Linked DNA regions of Homo sapiens. The protein of the gene in region 1 interacts with the protein of each later gene in a pairwise test. Each region holds a gene or a part of one and is shown in the gene's direction. Other genes may lie near its edges.

The links.
Region 2: the proteins of ZNF426 (region 1) and DUSP4 interact in binary tests that used the Homo sapiens proteins (3 or more experiments, as listed by UniProt).
Region 3: the proteins of ZNF426 (region 1) and MAP2K5 interact in binary tests that used the Homo sapiens proteins (3 or more experiments, as listed by UniProt).

Annotation. Positions count from the first base shown.
Region 1 is NC_000019.10:9,535,616-9,542,811, reverse strand, and holds the start of ZNF426 (zinc finger protein 426), read left to right. Parts: upstream 1-4,166; 5' UTR 4,167-4,237; exon of another isoform or gene 4,238-4,466; 5' UTR 4,467-4,553; intron 4,554-6,455; 5' UTR 6,456-6,579; coding exon 6,580-6,604; intron 6,605-7,196. UniProt on the Homo sapiens protein: May be involved in transcriptional regulation.
Region 2 is NC_000008.11:29,333,648-29,340,684, reverse strand, and holds part of DUSP4 (dual specificity protein phosphatase 4), read left to right. Parts: intron 1-441; coding exon 442-587; intron 588-2,183; coding exon 2,184-2,403; intron 2,404-3,273; coding exon 3,274-3,659; 3' UTR 3,660-7,037. UniProt on the Homo sapiens protein: Regulates mitogenic signal transduction by dephosphorylating both Thr and Tyr residues on MAP kinases ERK1 and ERK2.
Region 3 is NC_000015.10:67,804,703-67,807,651, forward strand, and holds the end of MAP2K5 (dual specificity mitogen-activated protein kinase kinase 5), read left to right. Parts: intron 1-1,943; coding exon 1,944-2,048; 3' UTR 2,049-2,412; downstream 2,413-2,949. UniProt on the Homo sapiens protein: Acts as a scaffold for the formation of a ternary MAP3K2/MAP3K3-MAP3K5-MAPK7 signaling complex.

The DNA of each region.
Region 1 (7,196 bases):
CTGTATTGATTAAGAAGGGGACAGACTTGCCCTCCACTGTAAGAGTTACCCAAAGCATCTGTGATAGTCCAGGAGGCTCCCGAGGTGATCGGGCAGTGTCAGTCTTCAGCTGCTAAGCCGAGAAGATCTGGGAAGGAGTCAGTCAGACAGCCTTGGGCCAGAGTTCCAGTGGCTCTGGTAGTGGCTGCCAGGTGAGTTGGACAGTCCGATTTCAAGTGGGGTCCCACAGATGGGACATGGCTTAGGAGGAATCCTGGGCTGCGGGCATTCCTTGGCCCAGTGGCCAGATTTCCAGCACTTAAAGCAAGAACCTGAGGGAGGAGGTCCTGGAGGAACACCTGGCCTCTGTGGTTTAGGCATTTTGAAGTTCTTATGTGCTGGAGATGTGGCTGGGGTTTATCTCACAGCAGAGGCAAGTAATTGCAACTCAGAAATACAACGCCACTTGGCTGCCTCTTCTCTATTATTGTACACCTTCAAGGTGAGGTTAATTAAGTCCTGTTGTGGGGGTTGAGGGTCAGAATCTAATTTTTGGAGCTTTTTCTAGTCTTGGGAGCAGATTGGGTAATAAAATGCATATTGAGAATAAAATGCATATTGAGAATAAGATGGCCTTCTGGCCTCTCTGGTTCTAGGGTGGTAAACTGTCTAAGGGTTGTTGCCAAACAGGCCATGAACTGGGCCGGGTTTTTATACTTGATGAAAAAGAGCCTAAATGCTAACTGACTTGGGAGAGGTTGGATGAAGAAAAAGGAGCATTAACCTCGACTATGCCTTCAGCTCCAGCCACTTCTCTAAGAGGATATTGTTGGGCAGGTGGGGGAGGGCTAGTCATGGAATGAAACTGTAAGCTGGACCGGGTGTGAGAAGGGGAGGTGATAGAAAGATCACAGGGTAGGGAGCAGAGGCTGAGGAAGAATTAGTGAGAGGTGACAGCGTGCTGGCAGTCCTCACAGCCCTCGCTCACTCTTGGCGCCTCCTCTGCCTGAGCTTCCACTTTGGCGGCACTTGAGGAGCCCTTCAGCCCACTGCTGCACTGTGGGAGCCCCTTTCTGGGCTGGCCAAGGCTGGAGCCAGCTCCCTCAGCTTGCAGGGAGGTGTGGAGGGAGAGGCGCGAGCGGGAACTGGGGCTGTGCATGGTGCTTGCGGGCCAGCTGGAGTTCCAGGTGGGCGTGGGCTTGGCGGCTGCACTCGAAGCAGCTGGCCGGCCCTGCTGGCCCCAGGCAATGAGGGGCTTAGCACCCAGGCCAGCAGCTGCACAGGGTGTACTGGGTCCCCTAGCAGTGCCAGCCCACTGGTGCTGCGCTTGATTTCTCGCCAGGCCTTAGCTGCCTTCCCACAGGGCAGGGCTCAAGACTGGCAGCCCGCCATGCCTGAGCCTCCCACCCCCTCCATGGGCTCCTGTGCAGCTCGAGCCTCCCTGATGAGAGCTCCCCCCTGCTCCATGGTGCCCAGTCCCATCAACCACCCAAGGGCTGAGGAGTGCGGGCACATGGCGCGGGACTGGCAGGCAGCTCCACCTGCAGCCCCAGTGCGGGATCCACTGGGTGAAGCCAGCTGGGCTCCTGAGTCTGGTGGGGATGTGGAGAACCTTTATGTCTAGCTCAGGGATTGTGGAAACACCAATTGGCACTCTGTATCTAGCTCAAGGTTTGTAAACACACCAATCAGCACCCTGTCAAAACAGACCACTCGGCTCTACCAATCAGCAGGATGTGGGTAGGGCCAGATAAGAGAATAAAAGCAGGCTACTGAGCCAGCAGTGGCAACCCCCTTGGGTCCCCTTCCACGCTGTGGAAGCTTTGTTCTTTTGCTCTTTGCAATAAATCTTGCTACTGCTTACTCTTTGGGTCCATGCTGCCTTTAAGAGCTGTAACACTCACCGCAAAGGTCTGTAGCTTCACTCCTGAGCCAGCGAGACCACAAACCCACCAGAAGGAAGAAACTCTGAACACATCCGAACATCAGAAGGAACAAACTCCAGACACGCCGCCTTTAAGAACTGTAACACTCACCGCGAGGGTCCACGGCTTCATTCTTGAAGTCAGTGAGACCAAGAACCCACCAATTCTGGATACGTTAGGACCTGGCTCAGCTTGGCGAGGAGCAGCCTGAGGGGGAGGGGAGAGGTCAGATGGGTCCATAGAAAAGGAGGATTCAAAGGACAAGAAAGAAACAAGAAAGATTTGGGATGAGTCACATTGGGAGCAAAGACTAGGGACGGACCAATGTGTAAAGAATGCCTGGATGTCAGGCATCTCAGACCATTTGCCCATTTTATGACAAAAATTATCTAGATCTTGTAGGATGGAGAAATCAAAAGTGCCATTTTCTGGCCATTTAGAACCATTGTCAAGTTTGTACTGGGGCCAAGTGGTGTTGCAGAAGAAAATAAGGTATTTAGGTTTTAGGTCAGGTGTGAGTTGAATAGGTTTTAAGTTCTTGAGAACACAGGCTAAGGGAGAAGAACAGGGAATGGAGGGCAGAAGATTGCCCATAGTGAAGGAGGTAAGTTTAAAGAGAAAGGTAGAGACATGGAGAAGGCAGTGGAGTGGGGTGGGGGTGAGCAGCCCTGGGCTGTAATGTGGGTAAGCAGCCAAAGCAGGCAGCCCTGCAATTGACTTGCCACCAAGGGAATGTGGGTGAATGATCAAGGCAGGCATCCCCACAGTGATCAGACACCAATGGAATGTAGGTGAATAATCAGGCAGGTATCCCTACAGTGATTAGCCACCAAGGAAAGACTGTCTTCCTGAGTCCGTGACTGGAGCTGGAGTTTTGGGTCCACAGATAAAATGTGTCTCCTTTGTCTCTACTGGAGAGGAAAAAGAACTGGAATTGGAAGGACAGAGAGATGGAAGGGTAGTGAGAGAGGCTGGAGAAGAGAGTGAAGAGACTGCTTACCCAATTTGAAATTGGTGAGATGTTCCTTGGGCTAGTCTGAGGACCCGAGGTAGTAGGTGGAGCTCCTCACGGAGTGAGGGTGAGGACGGGGCCAGTCTCCCAAGGGAGTCCCCCTGTCCCAGGTTTCGGAACCAAATGTTACACACATCCATGTGAAGAGACCACCAATAGGCTTTGTGTTAGCAACAAGGCTGTTTATTCACTTGGGTGCAAGTGGGCTGAGTCCGAGAAAGGGGTCAGCAAAGGGAGATAGGGGTGGGGCAGTTTTATAGGATTTGGGTAGGTAGTGGAAAGTTAAAGGTGGTTATCTTTTGCTGGCAGGGCCGGGGGTCACAAGGTGCTCGGTGGGGAACTCCTGAGACTCGTCCAGAAGAAGAATGTCACAAGGTCAAGAGATCAGTTGGGGTGGGGCAGCAACAAATCACAATGGTGGAACGTCATCAGTTAAGGCAGGAACTGGCTGTTTCACTTCTTTTGTGGTTCTTCAGTTGCTCCAGGCCATCTGGATGTATACGTGCAGGTGACAGGGTTTATGATGATTTAACTTGGGCTCAGAGGCCTGACAAGTAGTTCAAGACCAGCCTGGCCAGCATGGCAAAACCCTGCCTCTACTAAAAATACAAAAATTAGCAGGGTGTGGCAGCATGCACCTGTAATTCCAGCTACTTGGGAGGATGAGGCAGGAGAATCGCTTGAACCTGGGAGGTGGAGGTTGCAGTGAGCTGAGATGGCTCCACTGAACTCCAGCCTTGGTGACAGAGTGAGATTTTGTCTCAAAAAAAAAGAAAAGATGTTTTAAAGCAAGGCAGAAAACCTAGAAATTATTTTTAAAAACAATTCTTTTAGCTGCATAGAAAATGTTTTTTACATCAAATGTTGAAATAGTAACAGAGCAAAAGACGTAGTTACCTATTTTCTACATGCATAACACATTGGCTCCTTCCCCTATGGCCGCCCTGCTGCGGCCTCGCCCACAGGCCTGGCTATAACTTCAACCTTTTCCTCTGGGCCTGGACCCACATTCCTCCCCGCCCCCTGCCCGTAGCCCTGCCCACAGGCTTGGCTCTAACCTCGACCTTGCCTTCTGGACCCATTTCTGCCTGCAGCCCCCACGCTGAGCCCACCCCAAGGTCCTCCGCAGCCAAGCAGATGGAAAGTAGAATTTTTCTGCCTCGAGGAGGTATTACACGGCAGAAACCCTAGTCCCGAAACCCCGCCTGGCCCGAGGCGGAGAGCGTAAATGACGTCAGCGGTGCGCCGTTCCTTTTGTGACGCCGGCTGTGAGCGCCTGAGAGTCTTTTTGCCTTTCAGAGTTAAGGCCTCACTGGCCTGGGTGAGTTCCGAGGAGATGAACTGGTTTTGGGGTGAAGGACGGGTTTGGCCCGGACGTTAGAGAGGCCTGGCCCGCTCTGCTCGTGTCTGCTGGGCCCGCTAGCGTCCGCTCGGACCGTCGCTCCTCGGGAGGAGTCGGGTTTATAGTTACGGTGTCCGCAGGGTGTTTTCATCTGTGCGCCCCTCTCCAAAGGCCTCCAAAGCAGCGTTTGTGAATTTTTTTCCGGCAGGAAAATAATTGCTGCCTTTTGCATCCGCGTTGGCTCCGTCCCCAGGATCTTCCCGGTTCAGGGACCTGGCGATTTCTGAGTGTTCCGGTGAGCACTGGGTGAAAGTTGGTTCTAGGGGGCCTTTTCTGTCTTCTCTTATGCAAACGAATGTTTCATCTGTAAGTTTGGTTTCGTCTTATTGTGTTGTGTTTTATTTTTGACCATTACTTTCATGGCGAAAGATAAAGATGCTTTTTAGGTTTATAGGGTGTGCGTATTTGTGTATGTGAATATAAACGTTTGTAGACCGCAAGTCTTTCTGCTAAAGAATACTAAGAATAATAATTCATTATCTTCGAATGGAGTTCCTAGGCCTGTACATCCCAAGAGAGCTTCTTAATCAGACCTCCAGAGGGAAAGGATGAAGGCTTTATTATTCTAGTATCACAATAATCAAATTTACAATGAACAGGATGGTTGGATTAAGGAGTTTGAAACCAGCCTGGCTAAGATGGTGAAACCCCGTCTCTACTAAAAATAGAAAAAAAATTAGCCGAGCGTGGTGGTGGGGTCTTGGAATCTCAGCTATTTGGGAGACTAAGGCAGGAGAATCACTTGAACCCAGGAGGCGGACGTTGCAGTGAGCTGAGATCGTGCCACTGCACTCCAGCCTGGGAGACAGAGTGAGCCTCCGTCTCAAAAGAAAAAAAAGAGAAACGAAGGATGTGTGCATTTTAAGCTACATTGATTGTATATCAATGAAAAAAAAAAAAAGCTGGCTGGGTACAGTGGCTCACACCTGTGATCCCAGCACTTTGAGAGGCTGAGGCAGGAAGATCTCTTGAGCCCAGGAGTTTAAGACCAGCCTGGGCAACATAGCAAGACTCCATCTCTCCAAAAAAAAAAAAAAAAAAAGAGTTAAATATTCTATACAGATGCCACCAAACTGAATATTTGTGGGCCTAGTCAGCCCTAGGACCCCTAGTTTGAGACCCCTGGGAGTAGGTGTGATCTATACCAGGAGTCCAGAACTGTGGTTTTTGTGACTTTAGGGTTTTAGTCTTATTGGTAGAAGGAGGCCTATAGAGTTTTTGTGAATTTGGTTCATGGATAATGAACTGCGGAACTTTCACTGTTTATCATCATTTGACTCCCATTCTGTAGGTGATTGTTTGAGCCACTGTTTCATGTTTGATTAATTAATGATTGTCATTATTATTATTATTATTTTTTTTTTGAGACAGAGTCTTGCTCTGTCACCTAGGCTGGAGTGCAGTGGTGTGATCTCAGCTCCCTGCAACTTCCATTTCCCAGGATCAAGCGATTCTCCTGCCTCAGCCTCCTGAGTAGCTGGGATTACAGCCGCACACCACGCCCGGCTAATTTTTGTATTTTTAGTAGAGATGGAGTTTCACCGTGTTGGTTAGGCCGGTCTTGAACTCCTGACCTCATGATCTTCTGGCCTCAGGCTCCCAAAGTGCTGGGATTACAGGCGTGAGCCACCCTGCCCAGCCAAATAAAACCAAACTTTGGTGGAAAAAAATTAACCAGATAAATACTATGAAAAGGTAGTTCTCTTTGAAGACCCATAAAACAGACCAGTGTTAGGCACAGAGTGGTTTGGCCTTGCCTCTCTGACAGTGTGAGCTGGGGATGCAGATTTGATTTGAGTGTTTCCAATCAAGGCCCAGTTGAGGCTACCCAATACTTAAAAGTGTATTGTGAGATTATTTTTTCTATGTGTGTGTGCAAAACTTGTACTTGCATTCAGGTTCTGGTTTACCACTTCATTTTTTTTTGTTTGTTTACTTATTTTTATTTTTGTTTCTTTAGAGATAGGGTCTTGCTATGTTGCCCAGGCTGGTCTCAAACTTCTAGGCTGAAGCAGTCCTCCCACCCTGGCCTCCCAAAATGCTGGGATTACAGGCATGAGCTACTGCCCCAGCCGGTGTATATGTTTGATGGCTGATGATTAAGTACTGCTTGTTGATTATTGATTAATACCAACAGGAATCCCAATAACCCTGTTTAAAGAGGAATGGAGATTGCCACTGTCCATTTAGATTAATGAGGTGTCCTGAAGTGATGGTGACATCAATGAAAGGAGGGTTCTGACACGTTCTCACCTCGCGGGATGGCAGCTGCTGATTTGTCCCATGGTAAGCTCTGTTGCTCTTTTTAGGATATCCTGTTCTAGGTTCCCTTTACACAATATAGGGTCTAGTGGTTTGGGCAGCTGGTCATGTTGCTGATTCATTTGGGAGGTGCTGAGGGGTGCCAGAACGTGCTGTCTTGTGAGTCAGGCTCTGCCTGTGAATTTTGGAAAGAGGTACTGCATAATCTCCTTCATGAATTCTAATCAGCATGATAGAGTCCCATGCTCTGGGTATATGTTTCCTTATGTGTGAAATGAGACTATTGTACTTTTCCTGATGGGCAGCACAGCTCATCATCACGTTTAGGACTGCTCTGGCATTGTATGGTAGTAGGTTGTATGTTTGCATTTTCTTTCTTTTCTTTTTTTTTTTTTTCTTATACAAAGTCTCGCTCTTTTGTCCAGGCTGGAGTGCAGTGGTGCATTCATAGCTCACTGCAGCCTCAAACTGTTGGGCTCAAGCAATCCTCCCACCTCTGCCTCCCAAGTACCTGGGACTGCAGGCACATGCCACCATGCCTGGCTGATTAAAAAAATTTTTTTGTAGAGATGGGGAGTTTATGTTCACTGTGTTGTCCAGGGTAGTCTCGAACTCC
Region 2 (7,037 bases), on another chromosome or scaffold:
CTTCTTTCTCACATTGGAGAACCTCCCCTGAGGAAGGGCTGGAATCAGGGGTGGCAGGTGTCTCTACAGGTACTTAGTGTCCTTGGAAGCCCAGCGTGACCTTTGCTTCTCTATTTTGTCATTGTCCTGAGGAGCTACTCCACAGTCACTTCTGCACATCCCCCTGCACGTCTTCCTTTGTATGTCTACCTCTCTAACCCAAGTCTTGTCCATAAAGCTTATCCTTCCAGCTTTGCTGCAGTCCTGACGAGTGTGTCCTCTGCATCTCTGGAAACCACTCCATGGCCATTCTCTAGGTCCACAGCGCCACCTAGTGGCCAATATGGAGCACGCCAGCCCCTGCCTTCCTAGCAGTCCGCCTGAGTCTGTAGGAGTCGAGTTCTTTCTGACTTCCTGCTGGCTTAGTGACCCCATTAACCTGAGCTTCTTTCTCCTTTACAGGCGGCTATGAGAGGTTTTCCTCCGAGTACCCAGAATTCTGTTCTAAAACCAAGGCCCTGGCAGCCATCCCACCCCCGGTTCCCCCCAGTGCCACAGAGCCCTTGGACCTGGGCTGCAGCTCCTGTGGGACCCCACTACACGACCAGGTAGACTCGGGGGGCAGGGCTTGGAAGTGGGGGGCAGGAACAGCGTAGGGGCCAGTGGATGCCTTCTTTTCAGAGTTCTGACGGTGTTTTTTGTCTTTGCTTTTGAGACAGTCTTGCTCTGTCACCCAGGAGTGCAGTGGTGTGATCATAGCTTACTGCAGCCTCGAACTCCTGGGCTCAAGGGATCCTCCCTGGTAGCTGGGACTACAGGTGGCACTACCATGCCTGGCTAATTTTAAAAGGTTTTTGGTAGAGATGGGGGGGGGGGGTCTTGCTATGTTGCCCAGGCTGGTCTTGAACTCCTGGCCTCAAGTGATCCTCCTGCTTTGGCCTCCCAAAGTGTTGGGATCACAGGCGTGAGCCACTGCATCCAATCCTGAGATTTTTTTAAGTCTTTGAATGTTATGCCTCAATTTGGGGAGAATGCGGTGAACCCGGAGTATTGGGGTGGGATGTTAGGTAGGACCTATTTACTTCTTGGAAATCTTCCCCTTCCCTCTCTAAATATCCTCCTAAGAAAAAAGTCTAAAGACATGACTCCCTGGCTTGGCCTCTAACGTCGTGTCCGGACAAGTGAGGAGGCCTCCAGAAGCCCTGGGGGACCTGCTCTCTGGGAAGCTGAGGTCATTCTCCTCTGAAGTAGCAGGCCATGAAATACATCTCAGTCCCCGACAGGCAGGCTGCTCCCACGTATCAGCCGAATGAACATAGATGGTCACCCACCCTCCCTCCAAGAAAACCTGCTTGAGCCACTGTGTTTCTTATAAGCCCACCCTCCAGCCCTTTCAGTTAGATGGACTCTGCTGCCCACATCTCATGTGCTAAATTTAAGCCACTGTTGCCTCATTTTGCCAAGATCCTCTCTCTTGTCTGTGTGGCCATGAGGGCATCAGCTTATTTATTTGTTTATTTTTAGAGACAGAGTCTCACTCTGTTACCCAGGCTTGAGTCCTGTGGCGCAATCATAGCTCACTGCAGCTTCAAAGTCCTGGGCTCAAATGATCCTCCCATTTCAGCCTCCCAAGCAACTGAGACTACAGGTGTGCACCATCATGCCAGCTTCATTGTTTGAGAGATGAGGTCTCACTGTGTTGCCCATGCTGGTCTTGGAACTCCTGGCTCACATGATCCTGCCACCTCAGCCTCCTAAAGTGCTGAGATTACAGGTGTGAGCCACTGCACACCTGTTTTTGATATGCCCAGTGAATACATATCAAAACAAATAAGTATCTAAACCACACAGCAAATGGCTTGATGATTAGCAGATATAAACTCAGTGTCACAGATGGTGCCATAAGGCCGGCATTGTCCTGCCGCTTATTTTGCCATGGGGGAGGTGCAGGAGAGTCCCACAAGACTTTACCTGCCCTGGCCTCTCTGCTCACAAGTAGAGGGCAAAGGCTGGAGAAGTCCCACTGGGCCTATCACCCCTCCAAGAGTTCCAGGAGGCTACAGGGGGAGGCTGGGAGGGCCAGGCCCAGCAGGCATTCTCCCTGGGTTTGGAAAGGAAAGCTCTTCTCAGACAAGCTTCCACTCCCTGTGCCAAGCACTTTACCCTCATGTCATTCAGGGGCCTTTGTTTCCCTTTCTGTGCAGGGGGGTCCTGTGGAGATCCTTCCCTTCCTCTACCTCGGCAGTGCCTACCATGCTGCCCGGAGAGACATGCTGGACGCCCTGGGCATCACGGCTCTGTTGAATGTCTCCTCGGACTGCCCAAACCACTTTGAAGGACACTATCAGTACAAGTGCATCCCAGTGGAAGATAACCACAAGGCCGACATCAGCTCCTGGTTCATGGAAGCCATAGAGTACATCGGTAGGCTGGCCCTGCTCTGGGGTTCCTGGGTTTGAGGGCGGGTGGGAAGGATAAGGAACCCCTGTAAGCCTGGGTTGAAGGTGGACATTGGAGGCACTGAATCCAAGGGTCCCCATTCCCCCTCTTCCTCATTGGGAAGGCTTATACATTGGATGTTGGGTTGGGAGGGAGGAGGGAAGATGGACCTACACACAGGCTTAGCTTGCAGAGCCAGTCCCCTTCCCCTTGCATGGCTTCAGTGCCTAGATGGTAAGAGTTTTTGGACGGGGAGGAAGACACAAGGAGCATTGAGTCATAGTTTTTATTTTATTTCTATTTATTTATTTATTTTGAGACAGAGCCTTGCTCTGTTGCCCAGGCTGGAGTGCAGTGGCGCCATCTCAGCTCACTGCAACCTCCGCTTCTGGGGTGCAAGTGATTCTCCTGCCTCAGCCTCTGGAGTAGCTGGGACTACAAGTGCACCACCACGCCCAGCTAATTTTTGTATTTTTGTAGAGACAGTTTCATCATATTGCCCAGGCTAGTCTTGAACTCCTGAGCTCAAGTTATCCACCCTCCTTGGCCTCCCAAAGCGCTGGGATTACAGGAGTGAGCCACCACCCTGGACCCCACTGTTTTGTTTCTGCAAAGGGAAATCCTTGAACAGATAATAGGATTTAACCAGCTTCAGCATAGTGATTCGGGAAAATAGACCTCAGAATTGGGGGCATTCTAGAGACCTGCCTACATGGGTTTTCTTCCTCTCCAGTCCTTGGTCTAGCACGGCTAGTCCTTCCTTCAGAGCCCCCCGACCCCAGGGGCTGGCCGGTGCCCCTGGTCGGGGCTGGGGTCTGCAGAAACGTGCACTAACCTATTGAACCCTGTCCCCAGATGCCGTGAAGGACTGCCGTGGGCGCGTGCTGGTGCACTGCCAGGCGGGCATCTCGCGGTCGGCCACCATCTGCCTGGCCTACCTGATGATGAAGAAACGGGTGAGGCTGGAGGAGGCCTTCGAGTTCGTTAAGCAGCGCCGCAGCATCATCTCGCCCAACTTCAGCTTCATGGGGCAGCTGCTGCAGTTCGAGTCCCAGGTGCTGGCCACGTCCTGTGCTGCGGAGGCTGCTAGCCCCTCGGGACCCCTGCGGGAGCGGGGCAAGACCCCCGCCACCCCCACCTCGCAGTTCGTCTTCAGCTTTCCGGTCTCCGTGGGCGTGCACTCGGCCCCCAGCAGCCTGCCCTACCTGCACAGCCCCATCACCACCTCTCCCAGCTGTTAGAGCCGCCCTGGGGGCCCCAGAACCAGAGCTGGCTCCCAGCAAGGGTAGGACGGGCCGCATGCGGGCAGAAAGTTGGGACTGAGCAGCTGGGAGCAGGCGACCGAGCTCCTTCCCCATCATTTCTCCTTGGCCAACGACGAGGCCAGCCAGAATGGCAATAAGGACTCCGAATACATAATAAAAGCAAACAGAACACTCCAACTTAGAGCAATAACGGCTGCCGCAGCAGCCAGGGAAGACCTTGGTTTGGTTTATGTGTCAGTTTCACTTTTCCGATAGAAATTTCTTACCTCATTTTTTTAAGCAGTAAGGCTTGAAGTGATGAAACCCACAGATCCTAGCAAATGTGCCCAACCAGCTTTACTAAAGGGGGAGGAAGGGAGGGCAAAGGGATGAGAAGACAAGTTTCCCAGAAGTGCCTGGTTCTGTGTACTTGTCCCTTTGTTGTCGTTGTTGTAGTTAAAGGAATTTCATTTTTTAAAAGAAATCTTCGAAGGTGTGGTTTTCATTTCTCAGTCACCAACAGATGAATAATTATGCTTAATAATAAAGTATTTATTAAGACTTTCTTCAGAGTATGAAAGTACAAAAAGTCTAGTTACAGTGGATTTAGAATATATTTATGTTGATGTCAAACAGCTGAGCACCGTAGCATGCAGATGTCAAGGCAGTTAGGAAGTAAATGGTGTCTTGTAGATATGTGCAAGGTAGCATGATGAGCAACTTGAGTTTGTTGCCACTGAGAAGCAGGCGGGTTGGGTGGGAGGAGGAAGAAAGGGAAGAATTAGGTTTGAATTGCTTTTTAAAAAAAAAAGAAAAGAAAAAGACAGCATCTCACTATGTTGCCAAGGCTCATCTTGAGAAGCAGGCGGGTTGGGTGGGAGGAGGAAGAAAGGGAAGAATTAGGTTTGAATTGCTTTTTTAAAAAAAAAGAAAAGAAAAAAAAAGACAGCATCTCACTATGTTGCCAAGGCTCATCTCAAGCTCTTGGGCTCAAGAGATCCTCCCACCTCGGCCTCCTGAGTAGCTGGGACTGCAGGTGTGTGTCATCATGACCAATGTGAATTGCTTTTGAAGCTGGTTCATGGGCATGTAGGCCACCGAAGCAATTTTAGACCACAGTAAGTCAAGCTTTTTTCCCTCCGATGATCACTGGGTGGTTGCAGCATTTTTTGCATAAACCTGCCTAAGACTTGTCTATCGTCTGTGATCAATATGCCATATTACACTAAGGTGCTCCTGGAAAATTGGGTGCAGTTCAAATTTTCCTACAGCAAATCATTTGGCAAGGCCAGCCATTGGGGAAACCAGACAACTAGAGATAACCCTGAAATGAATCCTTTTGTAAATTGAAGCACCATCTTTTCTTTTTTTGCATAAATTGGAGGTTTTAATTTTAGGGCAGTTACCTGAAGTGAAATATACCAACAATTTCTTGTGTTCTTTAAATTCCTAGTTAGGTGAATATTTTTGAAGGTCCTCTTTTGAATAAAGAGGGGAATGGACACCACATTTCAGGTCTTCTCGAAGTGTGGAAGGGCAAGAGAGCATCAGTGAGCTGATGGTGGATTGCTTACATCGGATTCCATTGGTATGAATTTCCCAAACTGGAAATCAAAGCGCCAGGGTGGGGTTGGGGCTGACTGCTGGTGAGGGGGCTGGCCGCTGGCTCCCGTGACGTGCGTCATGGGCACGCAGGCGCCATTTTGAATCTATCGTCGGCACGTGGGTGCCATTTTGAATCCTTAGTTGGGCCTTTCTAAATGGAGAATGGCTTTGGAGGGAGACACGTTTTCTGTGGGGAGGGTTTGGGGGGGAGGGAGGAGGGAACAAGCTACATGCTATTTTGTTTGTAGTATTGTGGAACAGTCTTGTTATGGAGTGCCAGCTTAGAGGTTGTTGCAAACTTGTCTAGAAGTGAGAGCATGGTTTTTTTTAGCCCTTTGAGAGTCTACATCTAATGAACATTCTTGCTCACCCATAAATAACGTCAAGCCTCAATGTCACCGTCACGTTGGGATACTCTTTCTCATCTGGCATCCTAGACAGGACAAGGTTGGTTACCTTTCCTTCCATGAACCATGAACCTGTGACGGCATCATTCATCCTGACTTCACCAAGCTCCGCCTGTGGGTGAGGCCAGAGCTCCCACTGGCAATTTTTAGAAGAGCCAGAGGCTCCCTGCTTCCTCTAGAAATAACAGTTCAGGGTGAAGCATGGAGGGTTTCAGTTCCCAGACAATGGAACCATTTAGAGACAACACAGTTGGACATTTCCACTTTTTCCTTGATTCCTGGAAGTCCAGTGGGTTCTGCAGCTGAAAAAGCCCTGGGTCCCAGCAGCAGAGAGACAGGACAGAGGGGATGCTTGGGCGGGGAGGGACGGTAACCTGCAGAACAGATTCCATTTTTATAGAACGAGTACACGTTTGCTAAAACAGTCCTGCTTTCCCAGACTGGATTCCCACCACAGGGACAGTCGGAACTCAGGACTAGCTCCAGCGACATCTTTCCTCCGAATTCAAGCCTTCTATCACAATGTCAAAACAGCTATTTATAAAGCCATTTTCATTGTACTTGATAACAGCACGAGTCCCAAAACTTTTAGAAATAAAATAGGACATTGGCTTGATTGAAAAGAGGGACTTTTTAAAAATTGTTCTTTCGTCAGAAGCCTTTTGGATGACTTACAATAGCTCTGATGAAGATACCACCCCAGCGTCAGTCCAATAGGTCAGTGAGTTTCAACAGGCATCCATCCCTCCCATGAAGGGATTCTGGTGATGGGAAGTTTCTGTAATGACAGGAAAGCATTGACCCTCATTGATTGTCAACTTTGGTATTAGCCATGAAAGACAGGATGCTCATTGGGTGTTCTGTAGAGTGAGGAATGCTGCCTATTCCCTCCCAGAACGTCTGACCCAGGGGTGTGTGTTGAGGAGCCCTGGGGGAAATGGACCAAGTTTTCCCACAGAGCAGTATTAGGCTGAAGAGCAGGTGACTGGTAGGCCCCAGCTCCCATCATTCCCTCCCAAAGCCATTTTGTTCAGTTGCTCATCCACGCTGGATTCCAGAGAGTTTTCCAATTTGGGAAGCCATGAGAAAGGTTTTTAAATCTTGGGAAGATGGAGAGAGGGACATAGGATAGTTGACTCCAACATGACAGGAAGAGGCTGGAGATTGGGAATTGGCCATCAACCAAGCCTGTAGTAGTAAAGCCATGGTCCCGCATTGGAATTACTTGGGGAACTTATACAGTTCTGATACCCAGGCTCTCCTAGACCAGTTCAACCAATTCTAGGTGGGGGACTCAGGCATCAGTGTGTTTCGTAGCTCCCCGGGTGTTTTCCCTGTGCAGCCGAGCTTGGGAAACTGCCAT
Region 3 (2,949 bases), on another chromosome or scaffold:
CTGTGTTACCCCGGGCGTGGGGGGAGGGGCCCGTCACTCGTGAGCACAGCTTCTCCCTTTGTTCTTTAGAAGGGCACGAGGTCGCCCCTCCTGAGCCTCCTGAGAGGAAGTGTGCACGCTTGGACTTTGGGAAGGATTTCCTCTGTCTAGGCAGCGATTTGGGAAAGCAGCCGTGGGGTGGGCATATATATGGGGAGGAGAACACTTGGAAGCCAAAATCCAGTCCTTCCTGGGCCTCTCCTGCTCAGGCCCCAGACCAAACCTCTGCCATCCACAGGGCCACACCCAGCCTGGCCTCCATGGCCCCTGTGCCCTTAGGGGTCCTGCAGGTGTGTCAGGAGCCTCCCAGAGTGCTATGAGCAGATTATGGGAAGTACCCAGCTGGGCTCCAGGCCTAGCTCCACCCCAGTCTCAGCGGGTCCCTGCCCGGGGTTGAGTGCCTTGGCATCTTCGAAGCCGAGTTTCCTCCTCCTCCTCGCAGCTCTGACAGTGCTCTGTGTGCCTCTGAGATAGACCCACGCAGGGTGTCCCCAGGGCAGGTTTCCCAACCTCGAATGAGAAGGTTGGGGGCGGGCACTGCATCAGCCTAGGATGAGGCGGCCTGAGCATTCTCCTGTCCCCCACAGTTCTGACCTGTGGTCCAGAGGGGCCATGCCGTCCCCTGCTCTACCCAGGCCTGGTCCTTGACAGCCCCTGCAGGCGCTGAGGTTGGGACAGCCAGGGTCCACATCCCTCCTGGCTTTGTGATGAGCTCGTGGCGAGGCCATGCGGCTCTTTAAGCAGCCTCTCTAGGGCTGCAGTCAAGGCTGGGGTGTGCTGGGAAAGCAACCCTGAAAGCCCAGCCTGTGCAGGTGGAGGACAGGCCCAAGAGGGGCTGAGGAAGCTGGAGGGAGGAGAGAGCTGGGGGGAGCGAGGAAGCGGCCGCTGGACAGGGAGGGAGAAGAGCTGGGGGCAGGCACATGGCGCCCTCATCTCCCCCATTCTCTGTCCTCGCTATGGCTCCCCGAGTCTCACCATGCAAGCTGCACAGTTTTGGGTAGGAGAGGAAGCCACTTGGTGTAAGTTCCTGGGCAAGAAGCCACTTGGTGAAGAGGAAGAAAAAGAAGGCTTTTCACTTTTCCTTTCACCTCTGACTGTGGCCTGGTAACCCTGGGGTTGTCCCTGCTTTTTTCTGACCTTCCCTGGGAATTCCCAGGAGGCCCTAAGATTGTGGATGTAAATCTTGGTGCTTCAGGACAGCAGAGAAGAGAACTGGCTAAATAGAATCTGGTCTGCCTGTGTGATAAGTGGGTTAGAACCAGAGGCAGGCCACAGGGCAACAGGGCCGGCCCCTCCAGAGTCCAGCCCCCAATGGAACTTCTCACCAGGAACCCAGAGATCCTGTGCACAGCCCAGCACATTCCTCCCCCTCCCCACTTCCCCTGACATGTTTGCCTTCCCTCCAATTGCAGGTGGTGACTTCTTTTTATAGGAGAGCTGTAGACAAAGGAGAAAGCTAAAAGGGATTGACATAGCCTCTGACGAGATGATTCTTTGGTCTCTGGGCACCAACTGAACCGGAAAGCTGGCAACACAGTGCCAGGCCTCGGCTGACTGGCCGTGCGAGTGATGCCGGGCAGAGGAAGGGCCAGGCAGAGTGTGCAGCGAAGACAGGCCCTCGCCCTTAAGCACCTTCCAGGCTAGTGCGAGCCTCAGGAAGAGGTGGCAGAGTCTGAGATGTGCCAGCCAGCACTCCACACGCTTGGTGCTGACTACCAGTATGTCACTGCTCGTCCCTGGGCCTCAATTATCTAGGCCGTGAAATGGAGCTGATAGCCTCCCTCGTTACCTCACAGGGTTACTGGGGAAAGAGATCAGATCCAGGCTGAGGGCAGGCCCTGGAAAGTACAATGAGCGCGGGAGTCCGAGGACTGCCTGTCACAGCCTCCTCCTCTTCCCCGCAGGGCCACCCGTTCATCGTGCAGTTCAATGATGGAAATGCCGCCGTGGTGTCCATGTGGGTGTGCCGGGCGCTGGAGGAGAGGCGGAGCCAGCAGGGGCCCCCGTGAGGCTGCCGCAGGGCACTGAAAGCCCAGGACCAGTAACCAAGGAGAACAACCCACCCGTCGCCCTTCTCCGTATGCTGCCTGCGCCAGAAGAGCTTTGCTGGGCCCTGGCTTCCCTGCCCTCGCCTTCACCTCTGTCAGCAGGTGGCCTTGCCTGGGGAGCCCCATGTGTGGCCCACCCCACCAGGCCATCCCCATACCTTCTGGTTTGAAGGCGCTGACACTGGCAGAGAGGTAAAGGGTGGGGCATTGAGAATGGAGGCTCCCAGGGTCCCTGCCCACTTCTGTTTTCCTAATGTTTTTCTCTATAAAGGGTCAGGCCCGTCAGCATCACTGATGGGAATAAAAGTATTAATGCTTTGTGACAGCCTCTGCCATAAGAGTTGTGTGGTCCAGGGGGTCTGTGACCCCCCCCAGGGCTGGGGGCAGGTGGGATCTCCACTTCAGCAGGGATGTGTGTGACAGTGCCTGCTGCCTGCCCAGGCACCTGCAAGCCTCCTGCTAGCTCCTCGCAGTTGTGCTGAGGCCCACAGCCCAGCTCCACTGTCAGATGAGAAACAGAAGCACGGAGGCATTGGGATGGGTCCCATGGCAAGGAGTAGGCCCGGATCTCAGGCCCCCGCCATGAGCTCCTTACTGGACTGCCAGACACATCCACCTGACCTGCGTGGCTGAGGAGGGAGTGGGCTGTTCTGAGAGGCCCTTCTCCACCCCAGCCCCACCCCTGCTCCTCACTGCCCTTGACCCCACACCTGCCACCTCTCACCTCTCAGGAAATCCCCTCAGCCACATGCCAGGTAAGCCTGGCTACCCCCATTTTGCAGGTGAGGAGCTGAGGCTCCAAGGGGCTCAGGATTCCACTTGAAGGTCTGAATAGCATCTCAACACGTCCAGAAGCAAATTC